Regions from separate parts of the Homo sapiens genome. Here regions 1 and 3 are each linked to region 2. The links come from fine-mapping of genetic effects on gene expression. A gene starts in region 2. Each other region holds a variant in brackets. All regions are shown on one strand. Distances are from middle to middle. Region 1 overlaps ELK3 (ETS transcription factor ELK3). Region 2 holds the start of ELK3 (ETS transcription factor ELK3). Region 3 holds the start of LOC105369923 (a long non-coding RNA gene).

The links. PIP is the estimated chance that this variant, and not a neighbour inherited with it, causes the effect.
Region 1: its variant is the best candidate, but not a certain one, in a credible set for the expression of ELK3 in whole blood (TOPMed, PIP 0.57).
Region 3: its variant is the best candidate, but not a certain one, in a credible set for the expression of ELK3 in neutrophils (BLUEPRINT, PIP 0.52).

Annotation. Positions count from the first base shown.
Region 1 is chr12:96,220,906-96,225,147 of GRCh38, forward strand. It overlaps ELK3 (ETS transcription factor ELK3), which reads left to right. Exons shown (of 5, transcript NM_005230.4): 2 at 2,660-2,868. The coding sequence starts at 2,662. Among named protein-coding and RNA genes, the nearest start is that of ELK3, 29 kb to the left of the region's middle. RefSeq lists an enhancer at 3,069-3,118. The variant C/T (reference allele first, on the strand shown) is at 2,621.
Region 2 is chr12:96,191,891-96,196,132 of GRCh38, forward strand. ELK3 (ETS transcription factor ELK3) reads left to right here and starts at 2,485. Exons shown (of 5, transcript NM_005230.4): 1 at 2,485-2,815. RefSeq lists a silencer at 2,310-2,449 and an enhancer at 3,781-3,860.
Region 3 is chr12:96,093,801-96,098,042 of GRCh38, forward strand. LOC105369923 (a long non-coding RNA gene) reads left to right here and starts at 2,243. Exons shown (of 3, transcript XR_945238.2): 1 at 2,243-2,532. The variant C/T (reference allele first, on the strand shown) is at 1,994.

The DNA.
Region 1 (4,242 bases), 29 kb after region 2:
GGGTGGGGCTTGGCTTCGGACTTTGGGTTGAGTTCAGGTCACCTCCATGTGTCTCATTCTGGGGCAGCAGCTTCCTGGCAGCATAGCACAGGAGGAAAAGTGCCAACTTATGATGCCTCCAAGACCCCAACTCGGCAATGGGATGCTGTCACTTTCCCGTGTCAGTCTCCTGGCCAAATGCAATCACATGGCAAAGCCCCAATGTCAGCACTCCTCCCACAGCCACTCCAGTGCAGGGCTACACAGTCACCTAAGGAGAGGGCAGTTGAGAACATTTAACAAGTCTGCCATATGGGTTCTCATAAGTCATGCCCAGAACATGGTCTCTGACACATGGGGTTGGATTGCAATGAAAAGTGATTCTGTGATGCACAAGAAGCTCCGAGGAGGCCAGGCAGGTGGAAATGCTAAGTGTAGTAAAATACATGGATAGATGTTTCTGCTGCCCTCCTGTCCCATTCGGAACGTGATGTCAGTTAAAAGTGGGGGGTGGCGGTGGCCGACCACTTTCCCACCTGGCATGTGAGCAGAGGCCCCACAGTCCCTTCCCTGCAGACCTCCAAACCCACCGGCAGCCTTCTGCCCTCAGGAGCAGATTCATCTGAGCAGGCACTTAAAGTTTCAAAGATATGTTAAAGCTGACTGACTGACATGTTTGGCCAAGAAAATCTCAAGAATTTGCGACAACTGTTAGCCGTTCTTAGTGCCAGTGAAGAGAAGAAAGTTGTGGCTCATATCCAAGTCATCAGAAGGGTGGTTCATAGGAGGAGTTGGGACTCGTCAGCTGCCATGCATCCCAGCAAAGTGGGGGCTTGCAAGATTTGTGAGATGCAGAGGTGGTTTTGACCCAGCAGTGAAATGACTGTCTTACAGACCATTGTGGTTAATACTGATTTCTGTAAAGAATATCCCCTTTAAAGAGCCCTAAATAAAATGCCCTGTGGGTAATTGGAGAGCACTCCTAGTCTACTTTCCTTTAATTGAGAGGAGTTGTGGGGTTGACAATATTGGTACAAATAACCCTCCCCAAGGCAATTATTCTGGCTTCCAGGTCTCCCAGAGCTGCCCCCTGGGTTGCGGTCACTCCAGGTTCAGTCCCCTGCCCCCCGCCCACCAGGACTTCAGTGTCTCCCTCCTATCCAAGGGGATGATCCCTAGCTCTCTGTGCCACTCACAACAGTTGATCCGTGGCAAAGCTTTTGAGGCCAGTCTAACCACCTTTTTTTAAATGTAATGAGGATTGATAACACAAATGGATTATTATTATTATTACTACTTAGAATCAATACCTATTGTCATGAAAGTCCTCAAAGGCCTGAAATTGAGAAACTGCCCAGGAGTGGGGAAAAACTTCCTTGAGAAGGCCCTATTTGAGCTGGGTCACAATGGATGAGAAAGAGTTCACCAGGCTCCAAAGCTAAGGAACAGCATTTTAGCCAGAAGAAATAGCATTTAAAAAGTTCACACCAGAGTTGAAGGAAAAGGATAACATTGTATATATAGGTTTTTGTCTCTTCATGGGAGAAATTGCTTTTCCCATCTGTGCATCTGTGATGGTGGGCTTTGACCTGCAGCATGGTGAGTGCCGGGAAAGGGAAGGTCTCTGCAATTGGCAGTGATTGTTCGGTTTCACAAGCATCCACGGACTGGGCAGCTTTGAGCATTGTATGGGTTATCAGAGTGCTGGCAATACAAAATAATCCAGCAAAGTCCTTTCCTCGTGAAGCTCATCACAGTAGGAAAGGCAGTTACACTTAGACATATACCACAACCACAGGAGAGATATTCCAGGCACCTGTATAAAGTATGGGGTCCAGCATTTTAGTTAGAGACCGACTATATTAGTTCTTTCTCACATTGCTATAGAGAAATACCCCAGACTGTATAATTTATAAAGAAAAGCGGTTTAATGGGCTCACAGTTCTGCAGGCTGTACAGGAAGCATGATGCTGGCATCTGCTGGGTTTCTGGGGAGGCCTCAGGAAACCTGCAATCATGGCAGAAGGCAAAAGGGGAGCAGGCGTGTCACATGGCCGGAGCAAGAGCAAGAAAGCGAGGGTCAAGGTGCCACACACTGTTAAATGACCAGATCTCATGAGAACTCAGTCACTAACTCAAGGATGGTACCAAGGGAGATGGTGCTAAACCATTCATGAGAAATCCACCCTTAGGATCCAGTCACTTCCCACCAGGCCCCACCTCCAACGTTGGGGATTACAATTCAACATGAGATTTGGGCGGGGCACACATCCAAACTATATCACGGACCCACAAAGAAATTGATGGGATGGGCGGGAATAGACACTTGTGTTAAGTGGGGAATGGTTTGAATGGGGACTCATTCTGCAAGTGGTCATGTCATTAATCATTGTTCTGCATCATTCCCCATGCATCGCTGTCACTCGTGGGGACATGTGGTGAATAGAGGAGGATCACAGGGCCTCCCTGTATTTCTGAATTGTGGCTCCTTACAGAAATGCAGCCAGGAAGCTCCTGGTTCAGAGTGGCCCCTTGAGATGGAAGTGAAAGCTACTTTTTATTAGGTTCACTGGGGGAAGGAGGGGACAGCTGAGTTGCCCATTCTGAAGCCCCCTCTCTCCTCGCCAAGTTTGGTCGGCAT[C/T]GTGACCAGCAGCTCTGACCTGGCCTCCTCTCCCTGCAGGTATGGAGAGTGCAATCACGCTGTGGCAGTTCCTGTTGCAGTTGCTGCTGGATCAGAAACATGAGCATTTGATCTGCTGGACCTCGAACGATGGTGAATTCAAGCTCCTCAAAGCAGAAGAAGTGGCCAAGCTGTGGGGACTCCGAAAAAACAAAACAAATATGAACTATGATAAGCTGAGCAGAGCCCTGCGATACTATTATGACAAGGTAAACCCTTGACCTTGCATGGGGCCGTCTTGGGGAGGGTGGAATCCCCTCTGCGTAGTTCACTGATGAAAGAAAATAATAGCGTGCTATGAATCAAGTTAGAAAATAAAATAGGGGCAGTGCATACCTTCTTTTTGGAGAAAAGCTGTGCTGTAGGGATTTTCCCCACCCTCTGGACGCCCTTTGGATATTACTGAGGGTCACATTTTGTTTCTTCTGCATTTTCGTCTGAGTTTGCTGAAGAACTTTGCTCACAATACAAATGAGATGCAGGCAGGCTCTGGGGCTTTCCTCATGTTGAATTGCTTGAATGACACAATGCGTGTTAAAATCCGGAAAGTCTGTTTATCCTGTCTGGTTTGTGGTTCAATTAAAGGGACCTTTCCTGGAAGGTGGTAGCTTTGGCAGATTATTTTTTAACAATTCAGTGCCTCAGTATCCTCGTTTATAAAACAGGAATCAGCATAGGAATAATAATAGGAATAGGAATCCTGTCTCAGGATTGTGGTGATGACCGACCGAGCCATTACATGTAAGTACTTAGAACGCTGCTAATAGGAGTAGGAATCCTGTCTCAGGATTGTGATGACCAACCGAGCCATTACGTGTAAGTACTTAGAACACTGCTAATAGGAGTAGGAATCCTGTCTCAGGATTGTGGTGATGACCGACCGAGCCATTACATATAAGTACTTAGAACACTGCTTGGTATGTGGTGCTTGCAACTTCATGGGAAACTTCCCTAATTGGAAGAAAAAACATGTTCATTTTTAAGTCATAGAGATGAGGCAGAGTGCCTTGATAAGTGATAATATAGCGTAGTTGCCAAAACCAGGACAGTTGGAGTGAGTTTTAATGCATTTCTGGAAAAGCAGTTTTAATGTGCTTGCTAGGGCAAAATTATTGCTGTTTAGGAGAACCATTTCAGGCCTTAATTGTTAGCCATTTCAGTTTGAATCTGTTGTTGCTGAATATTTAGCCTCTAAGACATAAAGGCATAGAGCCATGATAATGGTAAGCTTTTGTTCTGGTTTTATTGTTCATATTAAAAGGTGAATTAAAAACTGATTTAAATATTAGTTCCTGATCTATATTTAGGGTATGCCGTCTGCCAACCCCTTTGGAATTCAAGACATAAGGATTATACGTTTCAGGAAGTAGAGACATCATTAATTATAAAGTGTTCCTTTATGTGATCGTAATTGCACGTGATTGTGTCATTGAAATGCTAAAGGTGCTCTCCTTTAACGTAGCAATTAATTAATCCTGACTTACTGCAGAGTCCTACTAAGATATAAAAGCACTTCTTGCAAATTGCACTGTCTGAAAGCCTCGCAGATGGCTTATTGTTTTGCGTGTTTTCCCAGGTTCTAA
Region 2 (4,242 bases):
TGGAATTACAGGCATCTGCCACCATACCTGGCTAAGTTTTGTATTATTAGTAGAGATGGGGGTTCACCATGTTGACCAGGCTGGTCTCGAACTTCTGACCTCAGGTGATCCATCCACCTCGGCCTCCCAAAGTGTTGGGATTACAGGCGTGAGCCACTATGCCCAACCCTAAAGTGATTTTAGACTCACAGCAAAACTGAGAAGGAGGCACAGCGGTTTCCCATATACCTCCTGCCCTGACACGTGTACAGCTTCCCCAATCATCAACATCCCCCACCAGAGTGGTACCTTTGTTGTAATTGAATCTACATTGACACATCACTATCACCCAAAGTCCATGGTTTACATTAGAGTTCATTCTTGGTGTTGTATATTCTGTGGGTCTTAACAAATGTGTCCACCATTATAGTATCATACCGAGTAGTAGTTTCCTTGCCCTCTGTGCTCCTCCTGTCCACCCCTCCCTCCCTGCTAACCCCTGACAACCACTGATCTTTTGTACTATCTCCATAGTGCCTTTTACAAAATGTCATATAGTTTGGAATCATACAGAACATAGCCTTTTCAGACCGGTTTCTTTCAGGCATATATCTCCTAAAGCAAAGCAACATGAGTTCTTAACTGTGTGGATTTTTTTTTTTTCCCTGAGGATAATAAGTTTACATTCTCTCAGTCCAACAGCTGGATCATATAGGGACACCATAGGTGTTCTACTGAGTGACAGAAGAAGATGACTGGGGATTAAAACAATAATACCCTAATTGGAAAATTAGCTGTGGGAAATCAGGGGTTGATAAGCAGCCCTCTTTTCCATATCTTCTCCTTCTGCCCCACTCTCCTACCGTGCCCCCACCCTACACCCCACGGGTTTCCCACTCCTTCTCAGAGGTCTGGAGGGCATTCTCCCACCCTTTCCAGTGGACTACCCACAGGAGCCCTGAAGCAAATGCCCGAAGGAAATTCCTATCACCTGTGTGCTCTGATAGGCACTTGGAGCTGGGATGTGGTACTAATCAGTAAAACATACCCCGTGCCCTTTAGCAGCTCACAGTTGATGGCAGTGAGAAATTTGTAAACAAAATAATCTTTCAGGAGAGACTGCAAAACTAGAAACAAACGTAGTGGAGGAACTCTTAGAATGTGGTCCTTTTGAAAGGACTCACACCCGGCCCCCAGAGAATCTGACTTAATTGGCCTGGGTTGAGTATATTGTTGGAGAGTGTCAAAACACTCCCCAGGTGATTCTGACATTAGCCGGGGCCCGGAACCACCCCCGACCTACTGAATCTGGGACTCCAGGAGAGGCCCAGCCACTAGTGGTTTAACAAGCCCCTTGGGTCAAGTTTGAAAACCAGGGGTCTGGGCTGCTAAGTGGCGGCATGGGAATGGAAGGTTCTGGAAGGTGAGCAGTGAGGTTGGGGCGCAGGCCTGGGAAGGGAGAGGCTCTTCAACAGCCATCCCCCCCAACCTTGTCTCAGCCTAGGGCAATGGGCAGGCTCTCCCATCAGAGCCTGGCCTGAGCCCTCAGAGGCAGGACCTCCTTGAGGGATGTGGAGGTGTGAAGACCAGTTCTGAGACCACAGAGGCTCCCTTCAAGCCTCAGTCTCTGACCCTGCGGGCATTATTTCCATGACTTCCAGTGTTGTGGCTCCTTATCCTTTCCCCACAGGCTCGCCCCCCAACTGAGGGCTGGCTTTTTTATTTTTTTGAGACGGAGTTTCGCTGGTTGCCCAGGTTGGAGTGCAATGGGGCGATCTCAGCTCACTGCAACCTCTGCCTCCCAGGTTCAAGCGATTCTCTCGCCTCAGCCTGCCAAGTAGCTGGGATTATAGGGACCCACCACCACACCTGGCTGTTTTTGTTGTTGTTGTTTTGGTATTTTTAGTACAGACGGGGATTCGCCGTGTTGGCCAGGCTGGTCTCGAACTCCTGACCTTAGGTGATCCATCCGCCTTGGCCTCCCAAAGTGCTCAGATTACAGGCGTGAGCCAGCACGCCCGGCCGAGGGCTGGCTTTTAAAACACCGAAAACCCAGACAGGAACGGTGTCCATCTCCAACCCCAGACGGAAACTGTGCCCGCACCCACAAGAAAAGCAGTCCTTTGCCCAGAGCAACCAAACCCTGAACCCCACTCTCGATTCCCCTCTGCCCCCCAACTCTTCCATCCCAGCGGATGGGAAACAGCGAGTCCAGCCGCCTCCCCACCTCGGGACCCCCCTCCCGGGCCAACTGCGCAGGGCACGACCCCGTCGTGGTGCCCCGCGCGCTCGACCCCCAGGGGTTGAGGTGAGGAGGGATCCCCGGTGTCCCGGGAAGCGCGGCGGCTTCTGCGGGTTGCGGGCGGACCCCCCTCCCCGTGGGGAGGGGCTGCGGCCGCGCGGAGTCGCCGCGGGTCGGAGGCTCCTCCCCGGGGTGGCCGCGCAGGAAGCGGGGCGGGTGGGGGCGGTGCGGGGCGCGCACGGGGCCGGGGCGGCGGGGGAGGCGCGGGCCTGGGCGGCCAGCCCCGGCGCACAGCCGCGGCCGGGGCGCGCGGCGCGGGGCGGAAAAGCCTGTTTACACAGACTGCACACCGCCTGGGGAATAATGCAGTAAAGGAAGTGAGCCGGCTCGGCCTGACTGCTCCAACTTCCTGCTCTCACACACACCAGAGGGGAAAAAAAAAGAGGAGCGAGAGAAAGAAAAAAAGGGGGAAAAATCAGGATCTCATTACAAGAGCCACAGACCGTCTGCAGACGCCTGTCAGCATGGAAAGTCGGGGGCTTTCGCCCGGGTCCTCCTAGAAATTCCCCCCGAAGAAGACTCCCCCACATCTGGGTAGGTAACAGGGCTTCTGCCTGTTGCTCGGACACTTAAAAAGTTTGTTTGGGGGTGTTTTCTTTTTTTCTTTCTTTTCTTGGGCGCGGTGGGGGTGGGGCGGGGGGCGCCGCGGGGTGGGCTGCGGGCCGGGGTGGGGGTGGCGGTGCGTCCGCGCGGGAGGGCCGGCCGCGGGGAGGGGGCGCCGCGGATGCTCCTGCGCCCGCGTCGCTGCCACCGCCGTCGCCCGAGCTCGCGCCGGGCCCGGGGCTGCGGGGACCCTGCGCCCGCGGCTCCCCTCCCTGGGGCTGCGCTGCGACCCCAGAGGAAGGGGCGCCGGGCGTGCAACCCTGGGAGCTCGCCCAGGGCCCCGCTGCAGGCAGCGCGGGGAGCGGGGGACGGCGAGACTTCGGGTCCCTGGGAAGAACCGTGGCAGGAGCAGGCTGAGTGCCTGGAGGCTGGACCACCGCCGACCTTCCAGCTGGGACCGCAGTCAGGCTCCCCTCGAGTGGGCAAAGTGCACTGGTGCTCGGATCCAGGGAGGAAGACAGGGATGGAGAGGGCGGTGGAGGACATGGGTCGCGAAGGTGTGGGGCTGGGGGCTGCGTCCACTCTCGCTTGGCAGGTGACCCCCGCCCAGGTCACCGCCCCAGGCGCACGCCCCATCGGACATTTAAAAGCCGGTGGTCTCTATTGGGCATGGTTTTGGAGAAGGACCAGGCAAGAAATGATCTTGGGGCCCCTTCCACTCCCCATCCCTGTTTACCTTCGAACTCAACGTTGGCCTGTGACGCTACTGTAACTTTTGGGGAGGCGGGATTAAGATTTTGGAGTAGTTAAAAAGCAAAAATAAAAGGTCTTGGTTTTGTTATCTTTTCTGAACCGAATCATCCTAGGGACAAGCTGCAGTTAGGCGGCGGGTGGAGGTGGAAGCAAGAAATGTTATTTCAGAAACTGCAAAAGGGGCTTTTTAGAAAGAAAAAAAAACGAGTGTCGGGAGAGTTTCTGGCTTGTCTGGAAACGGCAAGACTAATTGCCATGCGCTTCCGCTTTGAAACTGGCAGCAGACAGCATCTTGAAAATGACTCACTAGAGGAGCTCACAAAGAAACTGTGGTTTGCTCCTTCTTAGGTTTATGTATTTGTGCCTTTTACAGTTTCCTTTGTAGTGTTCGAGGGGTCCCCCGCCCCTTCCCCGCCAGCCCCCTCCCACCCTCCCTCATTTGAAAGCCCCTGGCCGGTCTTTAACTACCCCCACCCCAGTCCTCCAGCCTGGGGGTGGCGGGGAAAGGGGAGGCTGAGTTGTTTTTGGAGTTGGCTGCGGAGAGGGTTAAAGGGATTCTGCTGCTGCAGGGGGAAAAAGTTCCTTGAATTTTCCACTGGCTGCTGCAGGAAGAGAGAGCCCCCTTAGTCATTGCTAAGTAATGTCTGCACACACACCAACTAATC
Region 3 (4,242 bases), 98 kb before region 2:
GACAAAATTCATAATGTGAAGTCAAGGTTGGAAGAAGCCAGGTCGAGCTTCAAATTGGGAAATGAAGAATGTATACAGTGGAAAGCAACAAGCATGTGGGACAGAACAAGTTTGGCAAGGAGTGAGGTACAGAGGAGCAGAGGCCAGGCGTTCAGGACTAATGCCATGATTGCTGGGTGTCTGTAGCAATTCATTCAGTCAGTCACTCAATACATATCCCTTGTTCACTGTTTTCATTCATTCAACAAATATTTATTGAACGCTCACCTTGTGCCAAGCACTCATTTACATAATAGGGATATAGTAGAAGACAAACAGGAAAAATCAGTGACCTCATGGAGTGGACACAGACAACATCATAAATAAAATATCTAGTATGTCAGACAATAAGCGTATGGAGAAAAATAAGCAGGGAGAGGTGAGAAGGAGTGCTGTCTGGGGAGAGGAAGGTCGTTATTTTAAAGAGAGTGGTCAGGGAAGGCTTCTCTGAGAAAAGAATGTTTGAGCAAAGACCTGAAGGCGGAGGGAGTGAGCCACGTGGCTCCCTGAGGGAATCCTGCAATTGCAAAGACTCCAGACAGGAAGGTGACTTACTGGTCCAAAACAGCAGGGAAGCAGGTGTGGCTGGAGCAGAGTGAGTGAACTGCCTGAGGGCTGGTGTTTAGTTTAGAGAGAGGAAGCCAGCCCAGATGGTAAAGGGCAGTGGTTTTCAATGGGGTGGTGCCATCTGATAGTGGGTGTTTGTGAAATTCACGGAGATGTTTTTGTCTTCTACTGTAGTTGTGCCTGAATGTTTACATATTAAAATGCATCTCTTATTGTGGGCTTTCTTTTTATTTCTGCTTTGTATTTTAGATATGACTCTTAAAAATTGTGCATGGAGGGAGGTCATATTATCTCTGAATTCCAATTCTGGATTGCAAAGGCGGTGTTATACCATGTTGCTACTAACAGCTGCTAACTTGCATCTAACAAAGCTGAGACTCCAGAGAGGGACCATAAAGGTCATTGTGAGAACTCTAAATTTCACTCTTTAAGCTGAGTTGTTTGAGTAGAGTTGAGCAGAGGAGTGGTGGGGTCAGACTTAGGATTTAAACAGCTCTTCATGCCTGCCGTATGGAGAACAGAATGCAGGGGCCAGGGGAGAAGCCTGGAGACCAGGTAGGAGGCTGCGGCACTAATGGCGAAAGATGGAGGTGGCAGTGGAGGAGTGAAAAGTGGTCTGATTCTGTGATATATTTCAGAAGGCGGGAGCTATAAGGTTTTCTGAAAAAGATTTGTAGGGTGTGAGAGAAAGAGAGGTGTTGAGAATGACTCCATATTTTTGACCTGAGCATTGAAGGATGTAGATACCATCAACTGAAATGGAAAGCCTATAGGTAGAGTTGGTTTGGGGAAAACACCAGAATTTACTGGACACCAAACTATAAACTATATGCCAGGAACTATTTTAGGCACCAGGAACTTTCATAGGTCTGATACAGAGCATTATGTAAAGGAGTTCATCAGGCCAGAAGCTGAGGCCAGCAAGGACCAGCCTGTTTGACATGTAGGATTCCAGCTAGACTCTAAGCCTTCTGGGGTCAGTGAGCATGGTATGGTGTCTTGATCAACTCTGTGACCCACTTAGGACATGTTTGATAACTATCTATGGAATGAATGATGACTCTCTGCCTCTCATTCTCTGAGTGATTCAAATCATGACGGCATGAAAGTGTATCCTTATGTACAACCATAAAATTATTAGAATAACTGTTCTGGGTTTAGGCAAGGATTTCTTTTGGCTCATTTTGGATATTCTTATAAGATTGTAGCACCTCTAGAACAAAGATAGTGTATTTAATCTTTGAATCTGCAGGGCCTAGCGCCTAGCAGGTATTTGTTGAATGAAAACATTTCAGTGTATTTCCTCAGACTTTTTAAAATCAGGTATATTTTTATGGCCTTGTGATCATAATACCCATTTTATTTGTTTCCTAATTTTTACTTACTC[C/T]TTTGTTAAAATTATTTTTCCATATATAGATTCTTCATTAACTACTATTTTTATGACTGCACAATAATTTATTGCATATGGATAAACCATAATTCCATTACTCATTTCCTCATTATCCAATAAGATTCTTTTGGGCTATCAAAATAATAAATAAAACATCAATGAATATTTTCCTTAATGAGGCCTTTTATGTACTTTAGGTTATTTTAGTAGAGTGGTAAGATTTCTTGGTCAAGGACTATAGCAGACATTATTAGTATTTACCAACATCTGTGTTTCTCTGCTCCTTTTGGGCATGCAGAAAGGAGGCTTCACTTCTCAGCCTCCTTGCCATTGGGTAGGGTCATATGAATAGCTCTGGACAATGAAGCACACTTCATTGTGAATGGAAGTGATGTGTGAATTTCCTGGATGTGGCTATAGAAAGCCTATGCATGATTTGCCAATCTCTCCTGTTTTCTGCAAGGGTGACCAATGACATTCCAGATGGTAGAGTCCCTGAGTGACACAGAACAACCCTCCCTGTTCACCAACCTGAGGTGGGTATGTTGGAACTTTTGTTACAGTAAACTACTAGGATTCTGGGGTTAATTTGTTACCACTGGTAACCTAGTCTTTCCTGACTAATACAGAGACTCTGAGCCTTATGACACATTAGAGTATATATTGGCAAATTGCACAGTGTATATATAGTAGGTACCCAATAAATATCTCTTAAATGAATTAATGAGACTGGCCACCAAAATTACATGAAAATACCAATTTCAATGCTTATCAACAGCAATGGATTTATTACTTGATAGTTCTTGCCAACTTAATAGGCAAAAATATTGTCTTGGCTATATTTTAATTTGTATTTCTTTGCTTATTGGAAAAACTGAACATTTTTCATCTGTTGTTAGCTATTTCCTCTTTCGTATATTATTTGCTCTAAAGCTTTCATTCACTTTCAGTAACTATATGTTGAATGCCTTCACTGTTCTAGATATTGGGGCTGTACTAGTGAATAATTTTGCTGTCGTGAACTTTCATTCAGGAGGGGAGAAAAATGACGTGTACACAAATACTTAAATATTTTAGGTAATGGTAAGTGCTATGAAAATAAAGCAAGGTATGAGACTTAAAGATTGGCTGGGTGTGTTTTCACGCTGACTGGTCATGCAGGGCCTTTCTGATAATGTCATTTTTGAACAAAGGGGATGAGCCCAGCGGATATTGGAAAGAAAGGTGTTCAGGCCAAGGGAACAGCACATACAAAGGCCTTAAGGCAGGGGCATGCTGGATATTTTTGGGGATCTAGCAAGAAGCCAGTCTGGCTGAAGCAGAGTGAGCAAGATGGGAGTAGTAGGAGATGAGAGTGGAGAGGTAACAGGCCACAGCATGAAGAGTCTTGCTTTTTGCTTTTTGCTTTTCTTTGGATTGATATGAGAGTCACTGAGGGCCTTTGAGCTTAGGAGTGACATGGTATGACTTACTATTTAAAAGGATTACTTTGGCTTCTCTGTAGATAAGAGACAGTAGTGGTTAAGTGAGAAGGGATCAGATTCTAGATATTTTTTGTGGTAGAGCTAATTGATTTTGATGATAGGTTGGATATGGGAGTGGAATGTGAGAAATAAAGGAGTCAAGAATGATTTCAAGATTTTTTTTTTTTTAATTGAGACGGAGTTTCACTTTTGTTGTCCAAGCATGATCTCAGCTCACTGCACCTCCGCCTCCGGCGTTCAAGCGATTCTCCTGCCTCAGCCTCCCAAGTAGCTAGAATTACAGGTGTGCGCCGCCACTCCCGGCTAATTTTTGTATTTTTACACAATACAAAATACGTGGGGTTTCACCATGTTGACCAGGCTGTTCTTGAAATCCTGACATCAGGTGATCCACCCACCTTGGCCTCCCAAAGTGTTGGGATTACAGGCGTGAGCCACCACACCCTGCCTGATTTCAAGATTCTGACTTGAGCAATTGGGAAAATGTAGTTGCCATTTACTTTATTGCTCCATTAAACTATATTTGGTATTTTTAATGACTCCAGAAAATTCCATGTCAGAAATCAAATAAACAGTATACTGTGGTGGATAAAGTACTTGATTTCCAGGCCAGGGGTAGGTCTTGATTGACTTCAACCAGTTATGGTCCACTGGGTGCCATGGCTGCAGTAACTGGTTCAGGGATGGTCCTATGACCTTAGATTATCCAATCGGAGGCCCAGGACTTTCATTTAACAATCTGGGAGAGATGCTGCTGCTTCT